Homo sapiens: one gene and its partner. The protein of the gene in region 2 interacts with the protein of the main gene of each other region in a biochemical or structural test. Each region holds a gene or a part of one and is shown on either strand. Other genes may lie near its edges.

Region 1 (3,655 bases), on a different chromosome or scaffold from region 2:
TCACTTCTGGCAATCTGCCTTGCAGAAATATTAGCACAAATGCATGAGATATTTTTACAAAGATATTCAATGTAGCATTAAGTGGAAAAACTGAAGACAATCCATCAACAGGGACATGATAAGATCCATCGTGGGAGATAATATGAAATTCGAGACTAAATTAAAAGATGTACAGTATATCTATGTGTTCTATCTTGTTTAGAAGGAATTGTAAAAGTGGTTGGGTATAAAAAAGTGTTGCAAAATAATATTTATAGTATGATCAGATAGTTGTACTGAAAGATGGATGAGTGGATGGAAGGATGGACAGATGGATGAAAGGAGGGAAAGAGAAAGGAAGACAGGGAGAGATTGGGAGAGAGGATGGAGTGGGAGATAATATGAATGAATGATAGAGACGTGTGTGCATCTAATACATTGTCAATACAGATGATCTGTTGCATTGGGAGTGAGGGGAGGACGAAAATGTACTTTCATTTTTAATTTTCACACACTGTTGGATTGTTTGAAATTTTTGATGACGAGCATATACTACTTTTGTAATTAAAAACCACTGAATTCTCTTCTTATTAAAAATTGAGGGAATAGTGTATGCCTTCCTTTCAAGCTGAGTAAACGCTGAACTTCAAAGATGGAGGCTAGTATCTAATCTACTCTTCTCCTGGCTCTAGGGGTAAACTTTGGCTTATTATTTCCTCTCTGTATTGCAATGTTTCTCTCAAATGGGATCGATGACAAGTACCCTAAAGACAAATCCTGGGACTATGTACAAGAAACAACATCAGTTATAAAGAAAGTCCTCCTCCAAGATTAAACAACCCCATCCAAATCTTTAGAACAATAGTTACCAAATTTTAGCTGCACAGAATTACTGGGAGGGCTTGTTAAAATACAGATAGCTGGGGTTCACCCTCTATGTTTCTCATTTAGTGGGGCCTGAGAATCTGCATTTATAACAGGTTCCCAGGTGATACTGATGCTGGCTGCTCAAGAGGCCGCACTTTGAGAAACACTGCTCTAGGTGAAAGAAACTATTTGTCAAAGACAAATAATAATGTTTGCCCCAGTCAACCATATTTGATGAGAACCAGAACAAACCCTGCTACTCCCCAAGCCCCTCTTTCCACCAGCTGAATGAGCTCCTAATCCACTGTATGCAATCCACCACAGGAGGAATGTGCTCTATGACACTGCAGACCAAGGATACAAAAAATTGGCACAGATCTCAGGTCCCACACCCTTAAGAGAAGAAAACTCACCTTCTGAGAAGATGATGTTGTCATTGCACTCATCAGAGCTACAGGAACACATGAAGAAAGTCTCACCAGGCTTTTTTTTTTCCTTCATAATGCACTTTGGAGAAGCAGCATCTTCCAGAATAAAGTCATGGTAGGGGAGCTTGGGGTCATGGCAAACTGTCTCTAGTGTTATGTTCTCGTCATTCTTTCTCCTAGAGTGAAGAGATTCATTGGAAGCGAGGGGAGAGGGAGAGAGAGAAAGAGAATAAATGAATAATATGGCCTCCAGACAGAAAGGCAATCTGGAATACTTTTCCTTCATGAAGTTGTTCCTAACAACGGCAGCTGGTTCCTGTTCTCCAGCATTCGCAGGCTGTCCTATAGTCTCCTATGCTTTTCTACTCTTTTCTGTTTTTCCTTTGTTTATTCTTGGAACCCATTTGTGATTATAAACATCACCTGGAGCAGACAGCGTTCCACGGGGCAGTCCTGGTGGAGAACTTTACATATTTAAGTCTTAATTAAATCATTAAAGGGGAAGACATGGAAAAAAAGAACATTCCTAGGTACTCAGGATAATTTTAAATCTTCCATCCTGAATGTAATGCAAACCTCACATCACACCCCTAGTTTAAGTGGCAAAATCTGTCCTGTCTAGCTATACTGTTTTCAAAGAGCATGCCTGGGGAAATAGTCACAGTTCCTCTTTTTTTTGTTTGCTGGGCCCCAGAGCATTGCGTGTAAAGGGTATACTCCTTGTCAACAGCTGGTTCTGCTGAGAAAAACGGGAAGAAACATCGCAGATAAAGAACTGCAGTCTTTCCCAAATTACAGAAAGGAGCAATTCAGAAAAAACAAACAAACAAAAAAAACAAATAAATAAAAGAAATGGAAAGGGATGTCAGGGTGTTCTTCATTTACAGTTCAATGAAATATTTTATGCTGTCATAAACTAACTACTTTGACAGTATCACTTCATAGCACATATTTGAAGACTAATTTAGCCCAGGGCTCAGAGAATTTCTCACATAGCATTTTCCTTGGGCCCTAGGAAATGCTCAATTGGCCGTCAGTGTACATTAGATTTTTAAACAACATGATTAATGCCCACTATTATAATTGAACAAAAGAACATTTTGGCTCTCTTGGAAAAGGGTATCACCTCTCTATCTACCTCCCTCTGCTCCCTCATGAACATACTATCTTGGATGACTGTCCAACAAGGCTAGTCTGACATCCACCCTTTCACCTCTGTCCTTTTTAGATGCAAAATACCTGTTGTCTTGAATCGCATTCTCTCTGTCTAGAGAGGGAGCGGAAGGAAGGGCTAATCTGGTCCAGTCAGTTTTGCTAGAGTAATCTTCTATGAAGATTCTGAGTGCACACATGAGCCAATGCATGCATGTACTCACTCACCAATTTTCCCCTAATCCTCCCTGCCCCATGCACAAAGGCTCACTGCTCACAGCAAGGAAAACGGAAGGCAGGCTAGAAGCAAGAAGCAGCTAAGACACAGCTTGCACCTATAAAAGATGCGGGGCCATCCCCATGAGAGAAAGAGCAACTTTGACCAATACCACTTTTTTAGTGCTTAAGTCAAGGACATTAAAGGACAATATGTTGACAAAGGGATAAGGGCAAGGGTATGGGTTAGGACAATCCAGGCAGGAATGGTGCCAGTGTCAACATCCATGCAGCCCAGAGTTGACTCCAGTGGAGGTACATGTGTCTGCTTGTGAAGGGGCTCAAGGGTTCTTAAACTAGAATTCCGAAAGACACAAGAGGAGCAAGGCTTTGCTAAGTTGGTCCCTGCTGTGACAGGAAGAGTGACAAGCAGAATAATTGGTTGAGGGTGGCTATCAGGACACCAAATGAAACTAAATGAAAGTTGGCATGATCATACAACAAATGATGTATAATTTGGAAATCTACCCATCTTTAACCCCAAAGCTACTTGGCAGTCTTCAAATCAGCTGTAGTCATGGAACAAGAACACCTTCCTCCCTGCCCCCACAGTTTTGTGTGTGTGTGTGTGTGTGTGTGTGTGTGTGTGTGTGTGTGTAGGTTGTTTTTGGTTTGGGTAATAAAACGAAGGTATGCTGTGCCCACAGAAAGGCATGGTCTCTTTTCCTTGTGACGCTTATAGAGGCCTAAGAAGGAACTGTGAGCCATGAAAGAAAGCTGCTCTATAATTATTGGGCAGCTCTTCCAGAGCCTCCGGTTTTCTACCTCTTAGCTACTGAGAGAACTAACATCACAGAGAGAAAACAACTGTAATACTTGAGACCTGGTAAAGCCCTTAACTGCTTTCTCCACTCACTCCTGTAACAGCCAGGCACAGCTAACTTTTCAAACTCTTTTTGGATATAGCTGAGCATAGGAAAGGTAAATACAAAGAAGTAAATACGGACTTCTTT
Region 2 (3,655 bases):
CACGTTTGTGGAGAACAAAGTAGCAACAAAGATCAAGGTACCAAAGCGGATATGGACCTATAATCATGTCCTTTCGTTAAGGAGTCTGAAAGACTTAACTGAGTCAGGCGGCTTGAGTGAGGAACCAGAAGATAAGGCTGGGAAGAAGGTTGCAGTTGGATTTGAAGGACTTGGAATTTGGATTTTTATCCCATTAGGCTTGAGGAAACAAAGTTTTGAGGAGTACCGAAATGATGAAAACAATGTAGGGAGGTAAGTTAGGAGGTATTGCACTTATCCAAGCAAGAGCTGATGAGGGTCTGGAGCTAGCCCAGATCTTCCCTAAGCGCCTACCCATACACCAGTATCAATAGTGGGTATGAAGAAACAACATCAAATGTGTTAGGATGTCTCAGAATGTCTTTCATCTTGTATTTAGGAAAGAATACTTTGGACACATGGCTTGCACTGCAGGAGTGGTATCCTTACCCACTTGGATATTAAATAAACCATTTATGCAATAAATGAACAAAAAGTAGGAAAGTCAGGAGAGGGCGGTAGCTTTGGTAAAGGTATCCTGTTTGGCTTCCGATTTGTTGAGGTAACCGAGGGACATCTGCCTGGAAATGCAGTTGGAAATGTGGCAGCAACATCTGAAGGCAAGGAACAGATTTGTCAGCTTTCTTCACAGAGATGATGGTTGAAAGCTCTTTGCTCTTTATGAGAACTAAAGCTTAGAAAAAGTAGTTGAGATGGGACTTCATTTAAAAAGCCTTCCCTAGAAGGTTTCTATAACAGTGACCTCCTGAAAGCCAAACCCAAAGGCTGGTTTTCAGACCTTGATCTCTTAGCAGTTGTGCAGTGTTTTACATGTGTAATGGTTTGAATGTGGTTCCTCCCACATCGCAGGAGGGCGATTTGGCAGTATATGTATATATTTTTGGGGGGGGACGGAGTCTTGCTCTGTCGCCCAGGCTGCAGTTCAGTGGCTCGATCTCTGCTAACTGCAACCTCCGCCTCCCGGGTTCAAGCGATTCTCCTGTCTCAGCCTCCCGAGTAGCTGGGATTACAGGTGCATGCTACCATGCCCAGCTGATTTTCACTATGTTGGCCTGGCTGGTCTCCAACTCTTGACCTCAGGTGATCCACCTGCCCCCGCCCCTCAAAGTGCTGGGATTACAGGTGTGAGCCACTGCGCCTGGCGGTAGTATATTTCAAATGGTTATTCTCCATACCCAGTAGCTTTGTTTTTTATCCAAAGAAAATGATCAGAGGGATAATCAAGTACTTTTAGATAGTGCTATGATGAGTGTCTCTTATAGAGTAGAGAAATACCCTAGTTAAATCCATTTAAGGAAATACTATGCAGCCATAAATATCATGTTTTAGTAGAATATTTAAAGGCATCAAAATGCTTGTAACATTAAGTGGAAAAATCAGATTATAACAATATATAAACAGTGCAACCCCAGATTTGCTTTTAAAATGTACATTTGTATGCAGAATATTGATGGTAGTTATTTTTGAATATTATGTTGGACTTAAGATTGACTTTCATTTTCTTCCTTAAAACGTCAAACTTTGGCCGGGTGCAGTGGCTCACGCCTGTAATCCCAGCACTTTGGGAGGCCGAGGCGGGCGGATCGCGAGGTCAGGAGATCGAGACCATCCTGGCTAACACAGTAAAACCCCGTCTCTACTAAAAATACAAAAAATTAGCCGGGCGAGGTGGTGGGCGCCTGTAGTCCCAGCTACTTGGGAGGCTGAGGCAGGAGAATGGCGTGAACCCTGGGGGCCGGAGCCTGCAGTGAGCCGAGATTGTGCCACTGCACTCCAGCCTGGGCGACAGCGAGACTCTGTCTCAAAAAACAACAACAACAAAACAAGAACAAAAACAAAAAACTTCAAACTTTTACCATGGGTACATATTACTGTTCAAGTTAGAGAAGAAGAAAAGAAGGCTTTTTTTTTTCTTTTTTTAAAAGCAAAGACCATAAATATGTTACTAAAGAAACAAAGGGAAAAATAGTTTCCTCCTGTGACCTCCATAACTTCATCCTTTTTGTGTTTCCTTTACTCCTTGGCTGACTCCTTTTTCTCTTGCTTCCTGGCAAAATTGAGGCCACTGTTTGAGATAAAGCATTATGGACCCGTAGCTCAGTTCATATAAAAATCAATTCCAGGGTTGAAACATATAGCTACATGTTCTAGATTTAGAAGTTATGAGGAATTAATGAACAGGAATTATTTCCAATTCAAATACATTTCCCTCTGAGAAAGTAGTGAAGGAATCTCTAAGTCCACGATTTAGGTAGAGTCCCACCTTCTAGCAGGTGAGTCTCTCTGCCTGCCTGTCTCTGGTCAGCCTTCTGGCTTTTACTTTGTCATCTGCTTTATCTGCAGGGTTATCACTGTTCTTTAGAGCCAATCCCTGGAGGTGTGGAAATGCCACTTGAGTGCACAGGTTTCTATCAATTTTCCTGGAAAGGTGATAACATAAGCCATGTGTCCATGATAGGAGATGTTCCCAGTCTTCTAACCAAATTTATACTATCCTTTTTGCAAAACTGGAGGGCAGGTTTCTTTCTCTGTAGCAGTTGACACAACTGAATCACAAAGTGCCCTGGCTGAGACCTCGGAAGAGTTCCAGCCCTTTACAGGTAGTCATAGAAGCTTATTATCCTGCAGGTTTTGGAGAAAATGGTGTTTTTTGCTGATTAATGAGGCTTTGGTAAACACAGTAGTTAGAAAGGACATGGAAGGCTTTCTACTAGTCCCATGTTTGCTGGACACTGGGGAAACAAGTTGAATAAACCATCGATTCTGTCTAGAGGAGCTCCCAGTCAAGTTGGAGGACATAGGAGTAGAAGTATGGCTTTATCTGTCACAAAGAGAGATGCATGCTTATGAGAGGTACTGAGGAGTCATAGCTAGAACAGATTACCTGACCAGATGAGTAGGATCTTAGAAAGGGTCTTACAATAATTAAATTATGTTGGAGTTCAAAATGAATGCTTTCAAGGAATTCTAAATTAAGGGCCAGGGCAAGAATCTTTGTCTTATCCTAGTGGCTTTTGTTGTTGACTGCTTGATTGATGGAGAAGATCTCACTATGTTGCCCAGGTTGGACTCAAACTCCTGGGCACAAGCAATCCTCCCACCTTGGGCTTCCAAAGTGCCCGGATCACAGATGTGAGCCACCACGCCAAGCCCTTGGTGGCTTTTGGATATGGCTAAACTCAGTTGCACTTCTGAATAGGAGCCAGAAAAATATTCTAAAGTGGTATGATAGCACATGATAACCTCTATCTCCTTAAACCAGACTTTTTGTTATTGACTGCCCTTCCAGGGGTGGGTGATAATGCTTATCCTTGAAAAAGTTAACCTTCAGCTGAAGCTGCATATGCTTATTACAATGCAAATCTGATTCTAGTCACTTGATAAACTCCTTCAGTTTTTCACCTTAACGTTTGGATAAAATCTAAGCTTCTAGAAGCTCGGCTGTTGTTCAGCTTTTCAGCTCATCTTCTCATACCTCACAGGCTATCCTGCTGACATCTCAAATCAATTTGCAGTTCCCAGAATTGCCTTGATTTTCTTTGGTTTGCTTTTGCCTGTTCATCTTCCTTAAGGTCTTACCGTCTCTGGTACCCTGGGTACCTCTACTCATTTGTTC

The links. The genes of interacting proteins can lie anywhere in the genome.
Region 1: the proteins of CCNB2 (region 2) and TGFBR2 form a complex in vitro, tested with the Homo sapiens proteins (one study listed by BioGRID).

Annotation. Positions count from the first base shown.
Region 1 is NC_000003.12:30,648,065-30,651,719, reverse strand, and holds part of TGFBR2 (TGF-beta receptor type-2 isoform B precursor), read right to left. Parts: intron 1,451-3,655; coding exon 1,260-1,450; intron 1-1,259. UniProt on the Homo sapiens protein: Transmembrane serine/threonine kinase forming with the TGF-beta type I serine/threonine kinase receptor, TGFBR1, the non-promiscuous receptor for the TGF-beta cytokines TGFB1, TGFB2 and TGFB3.
Region 2 is NC_000015.10:59,108,143-59,111,797, forward strand, and holds part of CCNB2 (G2/mitotic-specific cyclin-B2), read left to right. Parts: intron 1-3,655. UniProt on the Homo sapiens protein: Essential for the control of the cell cycle at the G2/M (mitosis) transition.